7 linked regions of the Homo sapiens genome follow. The protein of the gene in region 1 purifies or fractionates together with the protein of each later gene. This does not show direct contact. Each region holds a gene or a part of one and is shown in the gene's direction. Other genes may lie near its edges. The genes, in order: TACR1, ADIPOR1, ARVCF, TSPAN3, TMEM164, PRXL2A and HACD2.

Region 1 (3,500 bases):
AGGAGGAAACGACAAAGAGGAAGAGAGGCAGCAAGGCACAGGGAAATGAATGTGGAGTTTTGTGTTTTAATTAACTTCAAGAACACTGGATTGGGAATACTCATAATAATTTATTAATATCCATCATTTGGAAACTAGAAAGGAAGTTTTATGTTAATAAAATTGATAATGATATCTTTTATTTATGTTCCCTCCAGTCCATTGTCTCATTTAATCTTCATCATGCCAATGAGGATTCTGTTTCAACCTGGAAGAGCGATTAGAAACAATTTCTTTTAGCATTGTCCTCCCACTCTCCACCCCCTCACAGCTTGAAGACCCATGCAATTTGCTTTTATGTGCCTTAGACATCTGCCTACATGCTCCTGCACTTGGTGGCTTTTGGATGATACCTCATTTAAGGAAAACTGTCATTGGAGGCAGAAAAGCAATGTAAGAGTCCTATCACACAAGAGAAAATACTAGAGGCCTTTTTGACAATTTTCCACCCAAATAAAAGTTCAACCCCTCAACTTTCCAAACAGGGCCATTGTAAGAGTACCAAACTCTGCTTAAATATTCTACTCTATTTTTCCCATTTGTTAAATTCAATAAATTATTAAATCATCACAGAATTCTTCCTTTTCTTGAAATGAAATTTGCCTCTTTGGTTTTGGACTATTCCTACTTGTCTCAGGCCTCTTCCACGTAGCAGGCTTTCCAGTAAGTATAAGGATAAGGTATTAAGCTTCTATTTATCTTGAAGCATCCCCAGCTCTGGTTAACTGTCCCTGGTTCCTCCAACTTTACATCATCATCATTAGTCTCTACTGGTTATTTCCATTTGTTAATGGCCCTCTTAAAAGGAGATGACCAGAACAGAGTTACCTTACTACCATCACTCTGTCTAGCATCACCTAGACACCTAGGACTGGCATCCTCCCTAGTGACCTTGCTGTCCTCTTTGACTTAGCTCAGTGCTTATACTAAGATGCTGTCCTAGACCTGCAAGTCTAGCTGAGGGGTCCTTATATTTCCACAGCATTTATCCCGTGGTGTTGCAACTGTCTGTACCTTGTCTATCTCTCCCACACCTCCCTGCTTACTAGATTGCAAGCTCCATGAAAACAGGGATCCCTTATTTTGTTTCCTGTTCCCAGAACCTATCCAAGTGCCTGGCACAGAGTAGGTACTCATTAAAATGTGTGCGTCATGAGCAAACTGACCATGCTTCTCTTCTGCACACATCAGCCAAAATCTAAAAACCAGACCCGATGCCTCAAGCAGACCGTATAGCACACTTACGATGCTGTGCCTTGATGCAAAAGAAAAACTGGGCCAAATTTCTCCCTACCATAAAGGTTTGTTACAAAATAGAATGCTTTTGATTCAGAACCCCCGTTCTAGAATAACCATGGTTTCTAACTCACACTTACTTCTTCCACACTCCAGTTGACTGAGCCCCACAGGATACCTGACCCACACCTTGCCACCCTCAACAGGTATTGTGCCCCAGGAAAAGACTTCCGATTGGAGGAGGTGCTTATCATTACCATCTTACCTCCCGTCTACCCAAGCATACCAGAAACTCAGAGAGATGAAAATGATAAGCACCTCCTCCATCTTATGGACCCTTCTCTGGCCTAACTGCTGTCAACCCCCTGGATTTTTCTCTAACACCCCCCACTAGCAGCAGGTGCACTCTCTCCTTTACTTGTCCTTGCTGAGGTGAAACCAGGAGAAACCTACTCTCCACCCAGCCCTCCAACTCCTGCATTGTTCACACCATATAAAAATACGATAGACACAGGAAAATTCCAGCATGAAGTGGTGCATGTGAAGTCCCACGTATGTGAGACTGACTGGGGAACTGGCTTACATTGCACCAAACTTCTCTCTTGCCACCTTGAGAGACTTCAATTCCACCTCAGTGGAAGGGGAAATATGAAGCTCTCTGGATGAGGAGCACCAAAGATGAAGAGGTGCTTTATGATGACCTGGAGACATACGAATCAGCATGAGTTTTAATGCTACATATGAACTGCTCAAGGAAATTAATTTGTCTAAGCAGCCCTGGGCCTAATCCCCTGCCCTTCTCTTGTATAGTTCTTAATCTACTTTCCAATTCAGCTTTATCACTATGTTTAATATTTGGGATTCCCTGTTGAGTGCCTTTCATGTCTTTTGTATGAGCGCACCCTTTAATAAACTTACTCCTAGCCTTTGGCAGTAGAATGGTTAGGAAAGAGCCCAGGCGATGGGTTCCAGTGCTGGTTCTACCACTTAGTAGCTATGTGTACATATGCAAGGTATTTAACCTATCTGGGCCCCCAGTTTCCTCAACTGATAAAATGGTTATAATGAAACTTACCTTGTAGAAGGTAAGAAGAGAGGGAAAGATTTGAAAAGTCTGACATCCACTAAATACCACTAAAATACCAATTAATAGTAATTAATATTATGCCCTCTAGTAAACTCTGACACACAATCATATCCATTATACGTGTCCATTCTTGTCTCAGCCTCCTCCTGGATTCCTTCTACATCAAGTACAATAGCTACAGGGTAAAACATTTATGTTCTTCCCCCTAAAGATGGTAGTTTAAAACTGTCCTGACTGGGTCAGCAAATCTCTTGCTAAATGCTTTTCAACATTCTTTCCATCTTTGGAAATGTACACACAGTCTACCAGTAGTCCATCATTTGGATATTGTATATCATGGTCCAGAAAACCCAAATGTTTTCTTTTACACCATCCCCTAAGCATTCATTTCCAATCCTTTATGTCACAAAGTCACCACCCTTATATGGAGTGAGCATCATTGTTTAATATCTGAATGAGAATGTGTTCATTGCAAAAAGCTCTTATAGCTGCGTGAGTTTTAATTGATATTCAATTTGTTGAAGTTACAGTGTTTTTTAGCCTTTGAACATATTTTATAAATCATGGAAGTTTTCTTATATATCTAGTTTGTGTGCATTAAAGTATGAAACATTCATTTGCCTTTGTTCTTTGACTAAAGCTCAATAAATCTTTAAACATGAGATAGAATACTTCCAACTAAGTATTTGAATACCATTTTCAAACTTAATCAAATCAATCTTACATATTTTTATTAGTCACAATTTTTATAAGCTTAACAAATCAAATAATCTTTCAAAATGTAAACAGTATTTATAAACTTGATTAATTAAATTCCTCTAAGCATTTCAAACTATACTCACAAATTTGATACATCTGGCTTTGTTAAAATCTTCAAATCCCTAACAGGAAGACTTACAAATAGAAGAAACAAAATCTTTCTCAGGACTTACTTAGTTCTTGTAAGACTAATAAATCAAAACTTCTAAATTTAGCACACAAATTCTCTTAAAGCATTTCAACCTGCTGAGAATTAAACTGATAAATTCAGGTTCTCCTGAGCATCCAAACATTGACTACAAAATTAATTCATTAAATCCTCCTAGGTGTTACACTTAAAATTGCAAATCTTGTAAGTCAAATTCTCTAATATATCAGA
Region 2 (3,500 bases), on another chromosome or scaffold:
CACATTGAGGCTACAGTGAGCTGAGATCACACCACTGCACTCCAGCCTGAATGACAGAGCAAGACCCTTTTAAAAAAAAAAAAAGACTTCTGTTGGGGAAGAGCTACAAAGGAAGTCAGACTGTTTTTCCACTTCAGAGTCTGGGACGCTTGGCATCGAGTAGGAGAGCTGAGGCCCTATATACTGTAGTTCGGTGATTTCAAACATGTGCCTTTGCTTTGATTCATATTTCTCCAACAAAGCTGTGAAATTATCCTGCCTAAGAGACAGTAGATAGGGGAAAAATGGCTGTATTCTTTATCTATACTGCTAGACTGGTCTTGCTTTAGGACAAGAATCAAGCTAGGTATGGATAGAGGCTACCCATAGACTCTCTAAAGGCCCAGGAACTAAACTCTTAGAAACTTTGTGTCTTTGCCTCCAGGAAAGGTGTGCCGTAGCCTGGAAAACTTGGGAATTGGTTCACAATATAAATGTCTCCAAAAACTATAAGTGAAATAACTCTCCAGCTAACTGGCTGGTGATTAAAAATCAATCTTTTCCCCATGTTTGGCACAGGATTATCTTATTTATAGGAGTACAAACAACCTCCCTGCTCCACAGCTTTACTCTCTAATATCCTAGGTTTACCCAGTTGGAAAGCTTAGTGGTAAAGGTTTATTAGCTTGAGTTGAAGAAATCTCATCAAAAATGCACTCAGTCGAGTTTGGCTCAAATATAATTTGCAGTATTGGGTGTGGCAAGCTTGAGGGGAAAGGCATTTCCTCTAAAATACGTAAGGACATAGAAAGCTGGCAGAAGGTTGGCTCACCTAGGATCGTTCTAACACCTTAGGGGTTTGTTCTGATTTTACACCATAGACTAAAACACACTTGTAATTCTCCATTGTTTGTGAGTGATCCACCCCATAGAAGTGGTATTTTCAGATCCTAGTATTATTTGCTCTTCTTTCTTGCCAGACGTCCGATCCCTATCTCTCCCTTTCCTGTCTCTGTGTTACTACAGTTTAGAAGACCAAACTGGACAATGGACTTTGCTCACTATGATGACATGATCTCCATTGACCTCCATTGTATGTACTTTAATGCATGATGATATATTTTGTATGATGAGTTGTAGCTGATGGCTGGTTTGTGAGTTAACTGGGGTCTCAGGTTTTGGTGACTCTGGGTCTAGAAGATGTAGAGAGGTGGTATAGGAGCTAGTGATAGAGGAGCTAGAGGGAATCGGAAGAACTAATAGTAAATGATTTGGACTGAAAAAGGAAAAGACTTTGATGATAGCCAGAAGACTTGAGGGCATAAAAACTTTTCAGATCAAATGATGAAATTAGTAAGAATGCCAATCTGGATTCTGCACATGATCTTTGGACCCTAATTGCCCAACTTAAATTTTCTCTATATTATTCTCATTGCCTCTAGTAAAATAGTTACATAGCACTCAAAGTTACTAAATTTAGTGTGTGACCATTCTAGTTGAGGGGTTCTCTCCCTCCACTGCCCTCCTGGAGCAATCAAATTGTATCACTTATTTTTGTGCATATCACAAACTACCTATGTTATCTGGCTCTTTGAAAACAATACTATAACTTGTTCAACTTGTATTTTGCACAGTGTCTTGTATTTTGCACAGTGTCTTAGAATGCCTTAGGGTGCTAGTCCTAAATACACTTGCTAAATATTCAATGAATGTGTTGACTTACTCTGGGGAAAGGGATAAGAGAAGCCACCACAAGCACAAGAAAATGCACATAAGCCCTTATCTAAGTGGCTAGAAGCTAAGTCATATGCTGGCAAGCTGGAATCTGCCCCATTCATTCATTCATTTTGAAATGGGTTCTAACTAAAATAAAGTATATTTATTATTTTATGATCCATGTATTGCATCTCAGAACCAGAATTTTGTTTTGTTTTGTTTTGTTTCTGCCCTGGTAGCCTGATCTAAGTTACTTCCAACAGTAACTTAGTAAGTAACAAGCTAAGTGTGCCCCTCTTTTCAGATTTATCTAAGATGCCCAAAAATATTTATGTTTTTTGCTTGTGATATAAAGTTGTTTTTTGGTTTTTTTTTTTTTGCTTGCGATATAAAGTATTTTTTAGTAAAGCTGCTGATTCAGTAGTACTTCACTTTGAGGAAATATGTTTTGAGGTCAGCCTATTGAGAAAGATTTCCTTGTGTCCCTCTCACACGGGTTGCCCATCCTCGAGGTTTTCATAGGCTTCCAGCTTCCTGTTCTCCTTAGCTCAATTGTTCACTATGACTGTGTGCTGGCATCTCGTCAGAGTCTTGCACATTTAAAGGAAGAGGAACTGTCTATGTGTTGACACCATATAAAGGTCTGCTGTATAGCAAGTTATTGTTTTTGTCTCTCTTGGACTAGATTGCCGGTTGCTTTCAACTGTGCTTGTGGGTTGAGCATAGCATGACTCATGACTGTTTAGAAGCTTGAGGATTGCCCTTACCTGATGTGTTAGTAAGTGTTCTCCAGAAAGCACCAATAGGATACATACATATGGATAGAGATGGGATTTATTCGGGGAATTGGCTCATGAGATTATGGAGGCTAAGTCCCACACTATGCCATCTCAAGCTAGACAATGAGGAAAGTCCATAACTGGTTCAGTTTAAGGCTGAAGGCCTGAGAACCCAAGGGGCTATTGGTGCACGTCCCGGAATCCCAAGGCAGGAGAACCTGGAGTTTCTGATGTCCAAGGGCAGGAAAAGAAGGGTGTCCCAGCTCCAGGAGGGAAGGAGGGGGAGAGACAGAGAGAGTTAGGGAGTCAGAGAAAGAGATTTATAATCCCTGAGAAGGAATTGTGATTACTCTTAGATAAAAAAGAACTGACACAAGATATCAAAGATATTTGTATATAGTGAATAGCCATGGATGATATAGTGTCTCCCTCAGGAGCAAAGTTATGTTTACTGCCCAATATAAAAGATTGGGGCTCCCTAAGCTTAAGTTTCCTCTCCCGGAATGCAACCCACTCCATGTGCAGTTGTTACCTGGCCCTCCCTGCATTGCAATGTGGTTATTTGGGTTTGGGTGGGGCTTGGGTAACCAATGCAAGAAAATGCTAATATTCTGGCTACTGCTATTGCTATAACTAATAAAGTCCTTTGTATGGGGGTAGAGGTGGGGAGAGAACTAATAATTTACAGCATAGTGGAAATCTTTGGAAACTTTCTCCCTCTTTCCCTCTTTTTTTATTTGCATTTCCCTGAGGCCTGTTTAAAGACTACTGTGAAAATCCAACCCAGGAAAACCTAAAGTGTCTGAGATTTTTCCTAGAAAATGGAATTCTGGGTTTTTCTGATTTTGTGTGTGCCTGTCTCTAGTTTCTGAAATACTCATTTGAGTAGGGCTTAGATTATGGGTTGTGGTGGTTGAAACAAGTTATTGTGGAGCTGGTTATTAGGTATGTGTGTGGCAAAGGGTAAATTGGGGCTGCCTCCTTGTCTTCACCTTCCTGCTTCCAGGTAAGTTCTTGCTTGCTTGC
Region 3 (3,500 bases), on another chromosome or scaffold:
GCCAGGCGGGCATGCTCACATCCAGGTTCAGAGGCTGGGCCAGACGAACACCTGCAGGGACAGGGCAGTGCCTATTGGGCTGTATGCTGGGATCTGGCTTGAGAGAGAGGTCTGTCCTGGTGGGGCCTAGCCAGTTGGAAGAGCCTGCATGTCACCAGGGTGGAGGGCTCCAGCCGCAGGAGGGCTGTGGGGGAGTATTACAGGCAGAGCAGGGCTGATGCAGATACCCCAGCGGGGAGTGTGCTTGGAGTGTGTTGGAGCAGAAAGCCCAGCAGGGCAGGAGTAGAGGGAGCATGGGGCATGAGGACTGGCGAGGGTGTGATGAAATGTCACTGGGTGGGTACAGGGGAGATCGAGGTAGTACCCAAGCCAGGCTGAAGCCCCAGTTTGGAGACAGGCAAGCTTGGAAGGCTGTTTTGACCCCTCATTTCTGGAGCACTGGGCAGAGCAGCAGGACGGCGCCTCAGTTGCCCGGGAACTTGGAGTGGTTGCCAGGAAGAGTGCCTCCTGTTGCTAGGGCAGCTGCCCTGGTTGCACTGCATCAGTTGACTTACAGAGGGTGGGCTCTATTGTCAGTGGGGGAGGGTGGGCCCTGTTGCTAGGGGGCGTAGCTCTCTGCACAGCTTCAGTTACTGGTGAAAGCAGGTCCTCTTGCTAGGGGTGTGGCCTTGGTTATACAACTCTCAGTTACTGGCCAATGCTGGTCTTGTTGCCAGGGAGGGTGGGCCCTATTACCAGGGGCGTGGCCAGGATGCATAGCTTCAGGGACCTACCGGGAAATGCGGGTCTTGTTGCTAGGAGAGCGTTCCTGGTTGACACCTCCCTCCCCACCCCAGGCCTCCTGGATGCTCCTGCTGCCAGGCAGGTCCAACTGATTTGAGCCTCAGTTTGTTCCTCTGTGAAATGGGAACGCTTTTCCCCTTGGGTGACTATATGTTGATAGTAAATATTACGTGACTCATCCACACCCATCCCTGGCCCCAGCTCACCCACGCCCTGGGAGCTCTGAAGCGGGAAGCGGGAGGGGTATGATGGATGAGAGCAGATTCTGGGTGACCGTGGGTGGCGGTTGCCCTGCACCTAGGCTTTGAGCTGCTGTACCAGCCCGAGGTGGTACGTCTCTACCTCTCCCTCCTCACGGAGAGCCGGAACTTCAACACCCTGGAGGCTGCCGCCGGCGCTCTGCAGAACCTCAGTGCCGGCAACTGGATGGTGAGGGACCAGGTCGGGCAGGGTGGGCAAGTCCTGAGAGAGGGAATCCCAGGCACCTCACTGGTGCAGCTCCTGCCTCGGCTGGCGGGGAAAGGAGGGGCCACACCACCACCCCAGGATCCAAGAGGTGTATGGGCTGCGGGCAATGCGTGCACCCTGGACGGTGGGAAAACCTCGGTGGAGGTGCCGTTGAGCTTTTGGGGTAGGGCTTTGTCGGGCACGGGAGCAGGAAGGTCCAGCTGGAGAGAGCGGTCAGCGTCTGGAGGTGGGAGAGTGCCTGGCATGTATGTCTGAGCAACCCTCTCCCCGCCTCCGCAGTGGGCCACGTACATCCGCGCCACAGTGCGCAAAGAGCGCGGGCTGCCGGTGCTTGTGGAACTGCTGCAGTCTGAGACCGACAAGGTGGTGCGCGCCGTCGCCATCGCTCTGCGCAACCTCTCGCTGGACCGGCGCAACAAAGACCTCATCGGTGAGGACGCCTGCAAAGCCCACGCCTGGGCACCGAACTGTGCCTGCAGCTTTGGGGTCCCATCGGAGGGGCTTGGAGGATGAGTGGTTTGGGAGTCCAGGCCCCGGCCCTCTCGCTTGGGCGCTGTCCCAACTGGAGGTAGCTCCAGTCCCCCCGGCCCTGTCTCTGAAGCTCAGCGCCCTGCTCACAGGGGCTCCTGTGACCGCCTGCACACAGGCGGTCTCCAGGGGCTCTCCTGGCAGTGCCCCTCGCCCTCGCGGGATCCCTGCTCCTTCCTGGAGAGGTGGGGCAGAGGTGTGTTCTGACACCTAGTCCTGCCCCTCAGGGAGCTACGCCATGGCTGAGCTTGTGCGGAATGTGCGCAATGCACAGGCTCCGCCGCGACCGGGGGCCTGCCTGGAGGAAGACACCGTGGTGGCGGTGCTCAACACCATCCACGAAATCGTGTCCGACAGCCTGGATAACGCGCGCTCGCTCCTGCAGGCACGCGGGGTGCCAGCGTTGGTGGCTCTCGTGGCCTCCAGGTGTGGAGGGGCGGGGTCGGTGGCTTGGGGAGCCGCGGAGGTGGGGGAGGGGCCACCACTGACCCCGCCCCCGGCCCCACAGCCAATCGGTACGCGAAGCGAAGGCGGCGTCACACGTGCTGCAGACAGTGTGGAGCTACAAGGAGCTGCGTGGTACCTTGCAGAAAGATGGTTGGACCAAGGCGCGCTTCCAGGTGCGGCTTCCCTGGCCTTCCTTCCATTCCCTGCTCACTTTGCCTTATTCCCACTCCATGTGCTTCACCCACCCTGTGTCTGTGTTTTATGTCTCAGTCAGCTGCTGCTACTGCCAAGGGGCCTAAGGGAGCACTGAGTCCTGGGGGCTTCGATGACAGCACGCTGCCACTGGTGGACAAGAGCCTTGGTGAGTGGTGGAGCTTAGGGAGCCTAGAGGGTGGCGACCCCAGCTGCCCCAGTTGCCTGACCCTTGGGTGAAGGTGAAGGAGGAGTCAGGCCTCCCACTGAGACGGCTTCCATAGGCCACTTTCCCTGCCCTCTGCCTCTTGGCTACTCCCTTCCCACAGCATCCGCGCTGTTGTCAAGCTGGGGTGAGGCTGCCAGCTGGCAGAGGTTGGGCACCTTAGTGACAGAGAGCCTCTAGGGCTACCTGGGCCAGCCCTGTGTGGGCTTCTCTGCCCCGATCCCCCCTGGCTGCCACATGCAGCCCGTCTCCTCCTCCTGCCTTGCAGAGGGCGAGAAAACTGGCAGCCGGGATGTGATCCCCATGGATGCGCTGGGCCCAGGTGAGTGCAGATGCAGTGTGGTTGGTTTTCTGTGCCGGGAGGGGACCAAGGCCTGAAGTGGGCCTGCTGGTTTTATGGGGTGTAGATGGTGCTGGGTGGAGGAGAGATATTTGGTTTAGGGGTGCTTAGAGGGTGAGGTACAGGGCAGCTAGAGAGGGATTAGTGCTCAGCCAGGGGCTCTGACCCACAAGTGGAGGGGAGTCTGGAGAGTTGGCAGGGTGTTGGTGAGAGCTGGCACCAGCCTGGATCTCCAGGACAGGGTGGGTGGGGGCTGTCTCCCAAAGCCCCTGTCCCACGAGTCCCCTGTGTCTGGGCTGAGAGGGAGATCTGCTCCTACAGGGCCTCCCTCAGAGCGCCCCTCATGCCCCACCTTACCCCATCTACAGACGGATACTCCACGGTGGACCGGAGGGAGCGGAGGCCACGGGGCGCCAGCTCTGCAGGAGAGGCCTCTGAGAAGGAACCCTTGAAAGTAAGTGGTCATGTGGCTGTGGGCAGGTCCCCGGTGAGGCCCCGTGTCTAGGGGTTGCTGGA
Region 4 (3,500 bases), on another chromosome or scaffold:
ATATGTAGAGGAAGGGTAAAAGCATAAAATGAAGTATCATACTTTTGGAACTCATATACTTGCAAAATTTTATAACAAGATGGCTTTATTTTTTAGACAGCTTAGTGGAAAAGCACTGGCTCTCCTAAAGTTTTAAAATGTTGTGACTTAATTTAGAGTATAGGCTTATTAAAAGATAAAGAATAATGGTTTTTTAAAAATTATTCTTTCTGTAATTTCAGACCTCAGCCTTTTGCCTAAATTTCCTTTCACTTCTTTGTAAAAAGGATGAATATTTTTAGTACACTGTCCTGGCACAAATCCTCCTTACAGGCTCAGATTTTCTCAGTGGTGACTAAAGCAGTTCAGCTGCTTCCAAGTTCTACATTTCATCTCCTTTTCTGTTGCACCTCCCTCCTCCCCAGCCCCCTCCTTTGCAGCTGCTTTATTGGCAAAGCTCAGATCCTTTGATAGATCTCAATCCCATCATGGCCCTTCAAAAGAAGAATTTAAGCTCACCTTTTATATAGCTTTTCTGATAGCCACAATTTCTGCATTAAAAATCTGAGGGATGACAAAGTCCCTATGCATACTAGTTAGGAATTTCTTAGAACCTCTCTTCCATTTACTATACTGTTTCCCATGTTCTTTTGGGTGTTTTTCATATTGATGGTTGGATATCATTACAACAATTACTTTTGGCTGTTTTTAGGTCTTCAGCTGCTACTGGGATACCTCTTCTATATTTTCAAAGTAACCAGTGTCATTTCATAATTGTTTATTATACAGCTTAAGATATAAGCACCATATACAGATTTCAGTAAAAGCAAAATTTGAAGCTGTTTTCAATTTAGGAAACACATCGTCTATTTATAAGCAATTTGATGTGTATAGTTTCATATCAGCAATCCGTGCAGTTTTCTCTTTGGTGTGTGCAACTAGTAAGTTCCTTTAACTATATGTTGCCAAATAGAGCTTTGTTATGTTCTCATCTTGTTGTGTGACTTGGATGTTGACTGCAGCCTGGGAAAAAAAACTGTTGTAGAGTCTATCAGAAAAGAAGAGGCAGCTTTACAAATGGCATCTCCCCACAGCCCTCCATTGCATTTGTTGTGCATCTGGTTGTCTCTGTTGCTGGTTTTTCTGCTTTCTTGTAGTCTCAGTTTCAGATGAGTGCCTCTTTTAGGGGGGAGAGGCAGTGGCAGCAGAGGAAACATTTCCCTTGGCCCACCTCCAAGCAGCACTAAGTGTGAGTCTCATAGGAACCTCTTTAGATTGAAAACTCATCAATTTATATCTAAAATGCAAGTAGTTCTTCAGTGAACTGTGCTTCAGGTTGATTGTTAAGTACATATGGCCTCCAGTTTTCTCTTATTTTCATTCGAATTTACATAGGCTAAAGCTAGTGAAGTTTCAGTAGGTGTACCGAAAGCTCAGAAATGGAATTCATTTTAACTCAAGCCTTTTAAGAAATAAATACTGCCTTTTAGAGTAAAAAAAACCTACAACATTAAAGGATAGAGAAACGTCTAATAAAAACAAATGACAAAATTTGATTAATTTGCACTTCAGATTGCTTCTAATTTAGCGTGAGGACTGATACTATTTACTTTAGCAAAATGTGTGTGTGTACATGTGTGTGAATATATATCACACAAGTAGTCAATAAAAAGGGGTATTTGGGAAGAGTGTTAAGTAGTTGACATACTTCTGTAATAAATGCACCCAAATTAAAATTAAGCTATGTCTGGCCAGGCGCAATGGCTCACGCCTGTAATCCCAGCACTTTGGGAGGCCGAGGCGGGCGGATCACGAGGTCAGGACATCGAGACCATCCTGGCTAACACGGTGAAACCCCGTCTCCACTAAAAATACAAAAAATTAGCCAGGTGTAGTGGCGGGCGCCTGTAATCCCAGCTACTCGGGAGGCTGAGGCAGGAGAATGGCGTGAACCTGGGAGACGGAGCCTGCAGTGAGCTGAGATTGCGCCACTGCACTCCAGCCTGGGCGACTGAGTGAGACTCCGTCTCAAAAAATAAATAAAATAAAATAAAATTAAGATAAATTAAACTATTTCTCTTCTCCACTCCCCCCCACTTTTGTGCTCACCTTCATTCTCTAGTACCATGCCCCAAAAGCAAATATGTCAGTGAACTCTGAGAACCTTTGAACAGGCAGTTTGCTGTAAGTACAGTGTTTATATTTATGACATATTTACGATATATTAACATATTCCAGATGTAATGGCCATCAGAATTCAGCAAGCTGGATTCAGTTGCCAAATAATTGAATAGTGAACTAAAAGCTATAAGCATTGAACTGAAGAGAAACCAGATACAAACCAAATACAAATACAAACCAACGCAAATACAAACCAAAGCTTATGATAGAGTTGGGAGGGTGATTTCAAGGGAAAGGGGTGAGATGAGGTGTACTCAATAAACTTTAACTGATACCTGCTGTCTGCCAAGTACTGTTCTAGATGATACAAGGGTGAAGGACAGATGGGTACAATTCGTGCTCTCAAGGTGTGTTGAGACAGGTATAGCTATAATTGCAACCGTTTCGATAAATATTCTGTTAGAACCATGCACTGGGAGATGTTTGTGTCCACCAAGGGCAGCTAATCCAGCCTGAAATGGTCAAGAATGGCTTCCAAAAGGAAGAGGTAACATTTAAGCTTCATCTTAATGAGCGACAAGGAGTTCCCAGGCATTTGAAGAGAGCATTCTAGAGAGAACAGCGGAGGCAAAGAAGTGAGAGAATATGTGGTCCATTTGGGTATAACAGTTCTATATTGTTCATAGTTCACAAGGGGTAATGAGATCTGGGGCTGAAAAGGAGGAATAGCTTGGTTCATCGGGGACTCACTTGCCTCATCCTGATTTTAAGTAAGGCTATGGCTTGATCTGGTTTGTATTTTTAATAAATATAACCCTGGTAGTATAAAGAATGTATTAAGATGCAGGGAGAGTCAATAAGTAAGATTTAGGGGGATAAGATAAGGCCCAAATTAAGACAGAAGCACTGCAGTGGGGTTGAAGAGGAGTTGAGGTATTCGAATAATGTTTTGGAAGTAAAGTTGAAGTTTTGTGATTTATGGGTTATAGAGGTGGGGCAAGGAAAGTTAATCCTCAGATGTTTGACCAGAAAAATTAGATGTCTGGTACCTTTTGCTATGATAGGAATGTAAGGGAAGATTAGATGGGCTGGGCAGGAAGGCAGAAAGGGTTTGAGACAGGTTGAGGATGACATGTCTCTGGAACTTGCAGATGGAAATGTGTAGTTCTGAGATGATAGCTCAGGTAGTGAGCTACAATGACTAATGAAGCCATAGCTGCTGTAGCCCACGGAGAGCCCAGAGAATGACTAAAGAATAAGGCCGAAGACAGAATCCTGGAGATCACTAACATCTCAGAGTCCGTGAAGAGAATGAAAAAGTGAGCACCTGGGGAAGTAGGAAGAAAACCAGCAGTGGGGCCTCTTGGAAGCCAGAGGAAGAGAGTTTTAAAACAATGTTT
Region 5 (3,500 bases), on another chromosome or scaffold:
CTTTTATAAGATTTTGGATGGTTGTGGTCGCCATGATAAAAAATAGCAGCAGCCATCTGCATGCCAGGATAGCTGTCGTATATACTTTTATCTCTCTTTTTCCACTCACCAGCCCTTAGAGGTAGATGTTACCCTCAGCCCACCAGCAGGAAAACAGGCTTAGAGGGGCAGCACAATTTGCCCAAGGTCACTCCTATGGGTAGTGGCAGAGCCATGATTCAAACCCAAGGCTACATGGCCCCAAGGCCTTTGTTTTTAAACTACTAAGCTGTATTTTCTGCCATTTGTGTACTGCCTGGTGTTTTGTCTTTTGTCCTTGCCATTACCAGCCATAGACAGATACATAGTTTGGCTGTCATTTGAATGGTAGTGGACTCTGTTGCACAATGTTGAGGTACCATAGTTTATGTAACTATCTCCCCACTTGGTTTGTTTCCAGTTTCTCAGTATTATAGATAGTGCAGGTGTAAATATCTTTGCGCAAATTAGGGTGGTTTGTTGGAGTTTTTAGGTATTTGATGGTGGTCCGCAAAGTAGTATTTTTGAGGCAAAGAGTTATAATTTTATGATTCTCCAGAAAGTCTATACCATTCATTCACCCAAGCAGTGATTACTTTTGGAGTGCCCACTGTGTACCAGGTGCTGGACGTGAAGAGGTAATTCAGAAACAGCCCCTCTCTCAGAGAACTAACAGTCTGGTATGGGATGGATGATGCAGCACAGAATGAATGCTACTAAAGTCGGGGTTTGGGCAAGGGGCAGTGAGAGCACTGAGAAACAGTGTCCCCTGGTAGTATCTCTGAGTGTTCCTTTCCCTCTGCAGCATGGGGCAAGACGGGAGGAGCATGATAACAGGGCTGGCTGCAGAGCTGCCTCCTGGCTGAGGACACCCCCCACCAACACCCACGGGCTTTCCTGCCACCGCCTGTTGGCTCAGTCACTGCTGCCCATCTGCCACTAGGGGGCGCCGAGCAGAGAGGATGGAGGGAGGGGGCACCCGGGACAACAGGACTGGGGGCTCCAGCAGTGGGAGGAGTGGCAGCCTAAGCCCTTGTCTGTCCTCCAGGCCTCCTCTTCCCCTGTATGCCCACCGCAGCCAGGGTGACAACACGGTGCCCAGTCCACACTCATTCAGCAGACAGGAATGTGTGCATGCCTTAAGGGCATAGCTCTGTGCATTTTCACGCACCAAGCACTGTGCTAGATGCTAGGAATGCAGAAGTGGCCTGACATGGTCCTTGACCCTGAGATGCACTTGGTCTAGAGGGTTGGACAGACAAGGGAAGAGACAATCCAACTTGTGTGCTGGAGGCCTTCACAAGTGGCAACAGGAGCGTTGAGCTCCCTAGTGAGTCCCCTGGCAGTGCGTGAGAGTTCATTTCTCCAGTGCTCCGCTCTTATGACTTTGGCTGTGACATTGCCCATCTTCTAGCCTGGAATTTCTCCATCTATAAAATGGAGGGAATGATATCTATGTCTGCAAGGGCCTTCTGACTCAGATGTGCCATGAGCCTAAAGCAAGCCTGAGCTTCTTCCACAGAAGAGCCCCCAGCCCTGGTCCCCACTTTAGTCACTGAAGAAAGTCTCCTTTCTCTTCTCGCCCACATGCTCTCCTTACATGGTTTTCCTTGGCATTCTGCCTCTGGCCTTTTCCTTCTCTCTTTCTACGTATGTTCCCATGACTTCAGTTACCACTGTGTGCTGATGACACCTACATCTCCATGCTCGCCCCCATCCTCTCCACTGAGTTTGTGACTCATATAACAATGAAAATAATCAGCATTTGCTAAATCCCAGATACAATACTGTAATTACGGTATATTATCTCATCTCATCTCTCCAACAACATTGTGAATTAGGCAGTGCCACCCCATTTTATAGGTGAGTAGAACCGAGTTCAAGAGATGCTGAGACTTTCCCAAGGCCCCAAAGTTGATAAGTGATGGGGCCAGGATTTGCAAACCTCTACCTGTTGAGCTCCACTGCCCATGCTCTTATCCATCACACTATATGTCCTAGAGTACAGGCAGCCGCCAAAGACCCATTTCCACTTGGATATTCCACATACACCTCAATTTCATGTCTAAACTTGGCCTCATCATTTCCCTTCTGTCCCAATCTGCCTTTTCCTCTCTTCTCCATGGCAATAAATGGCACCATCAACCCAGTGATACCCCAGCCAGAACACTGGGAGTTTTCCAAGATCCTTCCTCTCCCTTACCAACCCCCATCTCCCCAACAATCTTCTCCAATCTTCTTCCACATCATGGTGATTTTCCCCCCACTCTCCTCCAGCCTCACTGCTGTTGCCTTCCAAGGCCATTCATCCTGTTCTCTTTTTGGGCTCCTGTAGCAATCTTCTTACCAGCCTCCCTGCCTCGACTCTGTCTGCTTGAGTCCATCCCCTGCACACCAGCCAGGGTGATCCTTTGCAGACACACGTGATCACCTCACCTTACTGCTTCAAAACTTCTGCTTTCTGTGACTCTACAGCAGAGCTCAAAGCTGGCCACCCATGGGCTGAAATCCATTCAGAAGACATGTTTTGCTTGGTCCAAAATGTTCTTAAAACATTTTGAATTAGTCGCCAACATTGGAAAATCAGGAAATTTCACATAAAAGTTCATATATATTGGCTTCTCTTGCAAAAGTGAAAAGAACTGGTAACTCTGGGTGCACATCCCTTCAGGGCAATGATTGGATGGAGCTGAGTGGTGGTTGCCCTCTTTAGAAGGGGTGTGGGCTTTTCAGTTTGACAGTCTCCAGCATCCCCTAGTGTCTCTTAGGCCCTGGTCGCACCCCTGCTTCCAATTATCTGCCTGAGAGTTGGGGCATTTGAGTTCATGACCCTGGTGCATGGGATGAAGCCCAAAGCCCTCAGCATGGCTTCTAGTGTCCTATGTGTCGCAGCCTGGAGCAGACCAGCCCTGCGAACCTCTGAGGCTAGTACCTGCTAACTGCCCCGTTACACTCTCCCCTGTGGCCCCATGGAACCCTTATCCATAGTTCTCTGAATTGCCCCACTCTTGTCTGTCTCCATGCAAGCTTGTGCTTTGGAATTCCTAGGCCCCTCCTTAAGTCCTATTTGTCCTTCTGGGCTTTGCACCAGTACTTGCTGTACCAAGAAGCATTCCTTGTGCCCCTGGCTGAGTTTTGTTTTCCCATAACAGGTGGCGCAGACCTCAGTCATCCCACCAGCTACCCTGTGTTGTAGTTGTTGACTGTGAGTCTGCAGTTGCAGGGAACCTGCCTTCTTTATCTTCCTGTCCTCAAAGCTTTGCACAGGACTTGGAATACACAAGGTGCCTCATAACTGTTGAATGAATGGATGAATCAGTGAAAGACTGATTTGGGAAAATAATAGTCTAGGATATGATGTCAACCCTAATTGCTTGGGGTGGGGGTTCCAGGTCCCTTTCATTCTTCAGCATTCCCCACTCTGAGTTCCCACTCAGAGTGATACCCACAACATCCTATAAACCATGCCCCCATTCTCCAAG
Region 6 (3,500 bases), on another chromosome or scaffold:
CTCCCGGCCAAGTCCTGCAAGGGAGACTTGAGTCAGAGGTTCGATGGGCTGGGGTGAGGTGGGCCACACAATTACCACACCCACTCCCAGGCCTATTCCCGGTGATCTAAGCACACAGAAGCAGGCTGGTACTTAGGGAAGAAGGCACCAGTGTATGCCAGAGCTTAGGATGGCGTGAGGACCAAATGGAAAGATAGATATTGTAAGTGGTTGTTGGGAGAAGGAAGGCTGGAGGTGGGGGTACTTTGTGGGCTGCTTCCAGGAGCTCCCACCCACAGGCACAAGTCTTCCTAGCTGGCAGAAGAAGCCAGGAACAAGGCTGAATTCTGACAGAACCCGCCTGGAGCTCCATTTCAGTTGCAGAGACCTTTATCTTATGCAGCTGTCTTTTGCCCAGCCTCCTCTGCAGATGCCATAGGACCTCCTCTTTCTTTTCTTTTCTTTCTTTTTTTTTGAGACTGAGTCTTGCTCTATGACCAGACTGGAATGCAGTGGCACAATCTCAGCTCACTGCAACCTCCGCCTCCCGGGTTCAGGCGATTCTCCTCCCTCAGCCTCCCAAATAGCTGGGATTATAGGCATGCGCCACCATGCCCAGCTAATTTTTGTATTTTTAGTAGAGACAGGGTTTCACTGTGTTGGCCAGGATGGTCTCCATCTCTTGACCTCGTGATTCACCTGCCTCGGCCTCCCAAAGTGCTGGGATTACAGGCATGACCCACCGTGCCCTGCCAGGACTTCCTCTTTCTTTTTTTTTTTTTCTTTTTTTTTTTTGAGACGGAGTTTCACTCTTGTTGCCCAGGCTGAAGTGCAATGGCACGATCTCGGCTCACCGCAACCTCCGCCTCCCAGGTTCAAGCGATTCTCCTGCCTCAGCACCCCCGAGAAGCTGGGATTACAGGCACGCACCACCACGCCCGGCTAATTTTGTATTTTTAGTAGAGATGAGGTTTCTTCATGTTAGTCAGGCTGGTCTCGAACTCCCGACCTCAGGTGATCCGCCCACCTCGGCCTCCCAAAGTGCTGGGATTACAGGCATGAGCCACCGCGCCCTGCCAGGACCTCCTCTTTCTGATATAACACCTGCATTTGTTTGGCAGACATCTGTGTAGTTCTGTTCACAGGAGAAAAAAGTCAGATTACTAAACACCAGTGTTTAACAGTGGCCATCAGTAGGTGGTAGCTTCAGAGAGTATTTGCTTTCTTATCGACTATGGTTTCATGTATTCTCTGTTTTGTTTTTTACTATAAGCATATTTTGTTTTTATATAAGGGAGAAATAAAGCTCTTCTCAATTGGGAGAAATTACTGCCTGCCTATAATGAATGAGGCCCTGCTGGGCACTGGCTGGGGGCTTGATGAGTAGGATATGGTCCCTGTTTTTGGAGGGTCGTCAAACTAAAGAGGAAAGAAGATAGGGGAACAAAACAGTGCGGTTGGTGTTCTAAGTATCCTCTGATCACAGAAGAGAAAGCTGCCCCTACCCAGGGACATGATCCTGAGCCACCTGGATTGTGAGGGAGAATCAGGCATTGATGAGGAGGGGAATGAGGAAGTAGTCTGCCTACAGGGGACATAGCTCGGCACAGCTCCACAGAGCTAGGGGCTGCAACTTGGGGCATGAGAAGAGAGAGCAGCAAGAGAACCATTTGAGAAGGCTGTCCTTTCTCTGTCATCACTCCTGATGCCCTGGTGAGCTCCACGGTGCAGGAACCTCCATGTGTGTGCTGCATCCCCAAGTTCTGGTGGCAGCAGGTGCTTAGCAGCCCTTGTCCAGTCTCGCCTGTGACACTGCTGCTCCCTTCCCCTGTCCTGACCTCCTGGTTGGCTGTCCTGCCAGAGCCTTGCCTGGAAGATGAAATTCCAGCTACCCTGTGGGAGCAGTAACGCCTTCTTCCTTCTTCTCAATCTCCAGAAATGTCTTTCCTCCAGGACCCAAGTTTCTTCACCATGGGGATGTGGTCCATTGGTGCAGGAGCCCTGGGGGCTGCTGCCTTGGCATTGCTGCTTGCCAACACAGACGTGTTTCTGTCCAAGCCCCAGAAAGCGGCCCTGGAGTACCTGGAGGATATAGACCTGAAAACACTGGAGAAGGGTAAGTGGTGACCCTTCAGGTCTCAGTACTTTTCCAAGGAGCTGGGATACAGGCTTACTGCTTTCTTTCTAAACTCTCTCCTTTTTTTAATTGAAAAGATAATATAACAACATTAGGAAAAATTTAATAACAATTTTTAAACTAGGAATAATTCTGTTACCCTAACACAGTAATTTTGATTTTGGCATATTCCTTTCCATGTGTACATATTACGTAGTTGTGCTTGGCTTAGGTGCTGTTTTACATTTTAGCTTTTCTTATCAAAAGCATTTCTCATTCTCTGTTGTTGTCTCTGTAATTATAATGATAAATTGCTCCATAATATTTAGTAATAATTACAATCTTTTACTAAACCAGTGCTTCCAGAGTGTATTCTGAGGAATTCCAGGCTTGTGGGATCGTCAAACTAAAAGGAGTTCCTGAGTGAACAAGTATGGGAGACACCTTTTATCCAATTCCATGCTCCTGATGCTCAGCACAGACATATGCTTATTAGAATGAGGTGTCTGGATTGCTGCTGATTCAGGCATGGCCAGCCCCTCCCTGTGAAGAAGCTGTGGTGTCTGAGGAATCACTTCAAGGTCACCCGTTAGAGCAGACCTGCCTATCTCCCTCTTCTGGGGGACTGCTAGAATCCATTGTGGACAGCTTAGAGCCACACACCCAAATGTGTTAGCTCTGCCTCCTTGCTGTGTGCTCTCAGTGTTAGAGCTGTAGCTTGGTGGGATTTCAGTCATGCCAGTGGTGTGGCAAGAGAGTTGGAGTGGTGAAGGTCTCATTGATGGCGTGGTCACCATGTTAGCCCCCCAGGTGGAAGTCATCGTCATCTGTTTAGTAAGTAAGGAAGCTTGCGAAAGGAAGGCAGGAGATTGTGCAGGTTTATAGTAGGTCACCTTAGTAAGATACTAGGAGAGAGAGAGACCTGTTAAGCTTTGTTCAACCCAGGGTTTCCCAATCTTATTTGATTACAGACTCTTCTCCCCACCCTCTCACCCACCTGACCCCATTTTTTTTTTTTCCACATAACATCTACGGGAACATGGATCCCTCTGGGAAATACTAAAATAATTAAGGGCTCATATTTATTGAGCCCTCACCAACTCTATATTACCAGACATTGTGGTGAGCACTTTTATATTCATCTTTCAATATGCCCTGTGGCCCAAAGTGGAGCTACTAGATATTTGCATTTTACAAATGAGGAAGCTGAGGTTCAAAGAGCAAAAATAACTTGCCCAGAGTTACACAGCTAGATTCAGATTCAGTTGGACCTTAGAGCTGGGCTTGTTGAACTACAGTACTGTACTACCCCAAAGCATTTTATTCCTAGGCATCTTCTATCCTCTCCTTCGTTAATAATATTGCAGGTAACATATTTAGGTTAAAAATTTGAGACTTTTTCAGT
Region 7 (3,500 bases), on another chromosome or scaffold:
GTTCTAGATTGGGTAGAATCTCATTTAACTTAGGTTACCTTGAATGTATTTTATATTCGACTTTTTTGGGAAATCAACTGAAGCAAGCTTATATTAGGATTTTTAAAAATTCTAGGGACATCCTGGGGAAGCACTGGCAAAATCAGATGCTTTCAGGGTTTATGTAATAGAAATAGTGAAGTTGGTGGGTGTAGGATATTGGAAGTGATAGATAGAAGACATAATAGAGAGCCTGTCTAGAGGCGTCCAAATTTTAAAAATTTAACAAAAATGTATTGATTTCCCTGCATTAAGGGCAATGTATATCCAGCCCTCTCTCTTGGGGTAAGTATAGATTAGGATTTTGGAATTGCAAGGGACAAAAACCCAATTCAAACTATTTTAAGCAAAAAAGGAATTTTCTGGCCTCTGTAGTTGATACAGATACAGGATTAATTTACAAAGAAACTAGCTCAGGAATGAGAACCAAGGAGCTGACACTGCCAGATTCTCTTGCTTTCTCTCATTTCTGCTTGTCTGTTTCTCTTTGAATGTTGGTCTTGGGCTCTCCACATGGTGGGAAACAGGGAGGGTGTTTATTTTTCGCAGCATCTGTGTCACACAGTTCCCAGAGAGGATTCTGGTTGGCCCTACTTAGACTATGCCAGTGATGTGAGGTGCTTGATTAGCCAATCTTAGGACACATGCCCATTCTTCTGTCCAAGGGACTATAGACTTTGCTTATGGAAAAGAGGGATGGGGATAGCTTTGGGCACACAAAATCAATAGCCGCCATAGTTCGTATATTTCATTATGGTGAAAAACCTTCAGATTGCAGGGAAGATCTGGTTCATTTTGCTTAGCCTCCAGGCAAGACCATCATAACATTTATACTTTACTGGCAACTTTTAAAACCTGAACTATGGAATGATACTTAAGAAAAAATCATTTATCTCGCTGGGCACGGTGGCTCACGCCTGTAATCCCAGCACTCTGGGAGGCCGAGGCGGGTGGATCACGAGGTCAGGAGATTGAGACCGTCCTGGCTAACACAGTGAAACCCCGTCTCTACTAAAAATACAAAAATTAGCCGGGTGTGGTGGCACGGGCGTGTGGTCCCAGCTACTGGGAGGCAAGGTTGCAGTGAGCTGAGATCACGCCACTGTACTCCAGCCTGGGCAACAGAACGAGACTCTGTCTCAAAAAAAAAAAAAAAAAAAATTCTTTATCTCATGAAATGAAGTGTGATACCTCTACCTTTCATTCTCAATTTTTTTTTTTTTCTTGAGACAGGGTCTTGTTCTGTCGCCCAGGCTGGAGTGCAGTGGTGCCATCATGGCCGTGGCTCACTGCAGCCTTGAACTCCTGGGACCAAGCAGTCCTCCCACCTCAGCTTGCAGAGTAGCTGGGCCCACAGGCTTGCACCACCATACATGGATAATTTTTAAAACTTCATAGAGACAGGGTCTCCCTGTGTTGCCCAGGCTGGTCTCAAACTCCTTGGCTCAAGCAATCTTCCCATCTCAGCCTCCCAAAGCACTGAGATTACAGGCGTGAACCACTGCACCCAGCCCACTCTCACTTTATTTATTTATTTTTTTGAGAGAGGGTCACTCTGTCACCCAGGCTGAAGTGCAGTGGTGTGATCACTGCTCACTGCAGCCTTGACTTCCCAGGCCCCAGCCATCCTCCCACCTCATCCTCCCAAGTAGCTGGGACCACAGGCGTGCACTACCGTGCCTGGCTCATTTTTATATTTTTGGTAGAGGTGAGGTTTGGCTGTGTTTCCCAGGCTGGATTCACTCTCACGTTCTAGATCAGAAAGTTATCCATTTTGCTTTTGTTTTTTTCTCTTAGAAGGCAGAGGAATTTCTTTTTTTCTTTCTTTCTTTTTTCTTTTTTTTTTTTGACACAGGGCCTTACTCTGTTGCCCAGGCAGGAGTGCAGTGGTGGGATCTCGGCTCACTGCAACACAGAGGAATTTCAATAGTGTCCAAACTTAGGCATTTTAAGTAGGTGGTATGATGAAATGAGCTTCCAGCTGGAAGCCTGAGTACCTTTTTATTTTAAGTATAATAGTTTTCCCAACTGACTCTATAGATTTGGGCAAGTCTTTTCTCTCGTATCCACCTCCTTTTCATTTGTAAATAATTAGGTTAAAGTAGATTTCTAAAGTCCCTTACTACCCTAAATTTGAGTGTGAGGAAATTTTAACAAATCCTAATGTGAACCATTTTTTAAACTTAGAGGCTTGAACTTTTTTTGGAAGCGGACACTAGTAAATAAGTAGTACTTTCTCTTTCAGAACCTTGGCCAGTACAGTTCCCACAAGCTACAGAGAAGCAAATTTGGAGTCAAGACCATCAGACTTCCAGTACTTGATATAGTAGGGGGTTGTCCCCATTTGGAATACTTCAATAATTTAAAGGGGTTTCTATCTCTTTAAGACATCATAATATTAGAGCTGAGCACAGTGGCTCATGCTTATAGTCCCAGCAATCCCAGAGCTTTGGGAGGCCAAGGCAGGAGGATCACTTGAGGGCAAGAGTTCGAGACCAGCTTGAGCAACATAGCAAGACCTCATCTCTACAAAAAAAAAATTTTTTTTTTTTTAGCTGGGCTGGGTGGTGGGTACCTGTAGTCCCAGCTACTTGGGAGGCTGAAATGGGAGGCTTGAGCTTGAACCCAGGAGTTTGAGGCTGCAGCGAACTATGATTGCATCACTGCAATCCAGCCTGGATGACAGAGTGAGACCTTGTCTCAAAAAAAAAAAAACTTGGTAATGTTAGAAGTATAATTTTTAAAATTTAAGTATATCTTATGGAAGGTAGGGACATTAAACAGTGTCATACTTTAAAATCCACTCAGGAACCAAGTCTTAGACTTTGAAGGATTAGCCTGTTTATCCTTATAGAATTTTTAATAGGGATTTAGGAAAATATCTTGGATTTTTGGTTTTATCTCTGTTATCCCCACTAAGAACCAATTAAGTGACAAATCCTGGATTTGATTTTGGGAAAATGTCTGTGCATAAGGAAGTGAAGACTCCCAGGAACATGCAGGCAATTAACGTTGCAAAGGTCAGTGATGGAAGTAATCCCTTGGACTGGGCGATAGAGCAGGCTTGCTAAAACCACAATTTCTGTGGTTGAGGAGTTTTTCATTGCCTACCCCATCTACACTGTGTAATAATTAGATGTGTGTGGTATTGTTTAATTACACATAAGTTATCCTGATGGGAATTATTAGTGTTGACATATATCCTGTTTACAGGAGGAGAAAATGAATCCAGGGAAGGCAGCTACTCATTTATATCTCTTTATGCTAAATGTTATTCTTTATTAGGTTCTGTGGGAGTTTACTTAAAAAGGAAATCGAAATTACTTGTTCTCCAATTTCACATCTTCTTAAGAAAATAATAACACTTTGCTTTTTAAAAGACATAAAAACATTTACCAAGCAAGTACAAAGGAGCATGTAGTAGCAAGGTACAAAAGGAAGCCTGGCTGAGTACCATGGCT

Evidence for each region.
Region 2: the proteins of TACR1 (region 1) and ADIPOR1 purify together in Homo sapiens (affinity purification with mass spectrometry; 2 studies listed by BioGRID and IntAct, with this or other methods). This does not show direct contact.
Region 3: the proteins of TACR1 (region 1) and ARVCF purify together in Homo sapiens (affinity purification with mass spectrometry; 2 studies listed by BioGRID and IntAct, with this or other methods). This does not show direct contact.
Region 4: the proteins of TACR1 (region 1) and TSPAN3 purify together in Homo sapiens (affinity purification with mass spectrometry; 2 studies listed by BioGRID and IntAct, with this or other methods). This does not show direct contact.
Region 5: the proteins of TACR1 (region 1) and TMEM164 purify together in Homo sapiens (affinity purification with mass spectrometry; 2 studies listed by BioGRID and IntAct, with this or other methods). This does not show direct contact.
Region 6: the proteins of TACR1 (region 1) and PRXL2A purify together in Homo sapiens (affinity purification with mass spectrometry; 2 studies listed by BioGRID and IntAct, with this or other methods). This does not show direct contact.
Region 7: the proteins of TACR1 (region 1) and HACD2 purify together in Homo sapiens (affinity purification with mass spectrometry; 2 studies listed by BioGRID and IntAct, with this or other methods). This does not show direct contact.

The regions. Positions count from the first base shown.
Region 1 is NC_000002.12:75,189,521-75,193,020, reverse strand, and holds part of TACR1 (substance-P receptor), read left to right. Parts: intron 1-3,076; exon of another isoform or gene 3,077-3,500. UniProt on the Homo sapiens protein: This is a receptor for the tachykinin neuropeptide substance P. It is probably associated with G proteins that activate a phosphatidylinositol-calcium second messenger system.
Region 2 is NC_000001.11:202,951,813-202,955,312, reverse strand, and holds part of ADIPOR1 (adiponectin receptor protein 1), read left to right. Parts: intron 1-1,005; exon of another isoform or gene 1,006-1,072; intron 1,073-3,500. UniProt on the Homo sapiens protein: Receptor for ADIPOQ, an essential hormone secreted by adipocytes that regulates glucose and lipid metabolism. Required for normal glucose and fat homeostasis and for maintaining a normal body weight.
Region 3 is NC_000022.11:19,971,824-19,975,323, reverse strand, and holds part of ARVCF (splicing regulator ARVCF), read left to right. Parts: intron 1-1,084; coding exon 1,085-1,212; intron 1,213-1,530; coding exon 1,531-1,681; intron 1,682-2,006; coding exon 2,007-2,205; intron 2,206-2,287; coding exon 2,288-2,399; intron 2,400-2,496; coding exon 2,497-2,587; intron 2,588-2,912; coding exon 2,913-2,966; intron 2,967-3,352; coding exon 3,353-3,438; intron 3,439-3,500. UniProt on the Homo sapiens protein: Contributes to the regulation of alternative splicing of pre-mRNAs.
Region 4 is NC_000015.10:77,057,610-77,061,109, reverse strand, and holds part of TSPAN3 (tetraspanin-3), read left to right. Parts: intron 1-3,500. UniProt on the Homo sapiens protein: Regulates the proliferation and migration of oligodendrocytes, a process essential for normal myelination and repair.
Region 5 is NC_000023.11:110,167,114-110,170,613, forward strand, and holds part of TMEM164 (transmembrane protein 164), read left to right. Parts: intron 1-3,500.
Region 6 is NC_000010.11:80,418,551-80,422,050, forward strand, and holds part of PRXL2A (peroxiredoxin-like 2A isoform 1 precursor), read left to right. Parts: intron 1-1,449; exon of another isoform or gene 1,450-1,915; 5' UTR 1,916-1,917; coding exon 1,918-2,095; intron 2,096-3,500. UniProt on the Homo sapiens protein: Involved in redox regulation of the cell. Acts as an antioxidant. Inhibits TNFSF11-induced NFKB1 and JUN activation and osteoclast differentiation. May affect bone resorption and help to maintain bone mass.
Region 7 is NC_000003.12:123,578,554-123,582,053, reverse strand, and holds part of HACD2 (very-long-chain (3R)-3-hydroxyacyl-CoA dehydratase 2), read left to right. Parts: intron 1-2,284; coding exon of another isoform or gene 2,285-2,353; intron 2,354-3,500. UniProt on the Homo sapiens protein: Catalyzes the third of the very long-chain fatty acids (VLCFA) elongation four-step cycle (condensation, reduction, dehydration, and reduction).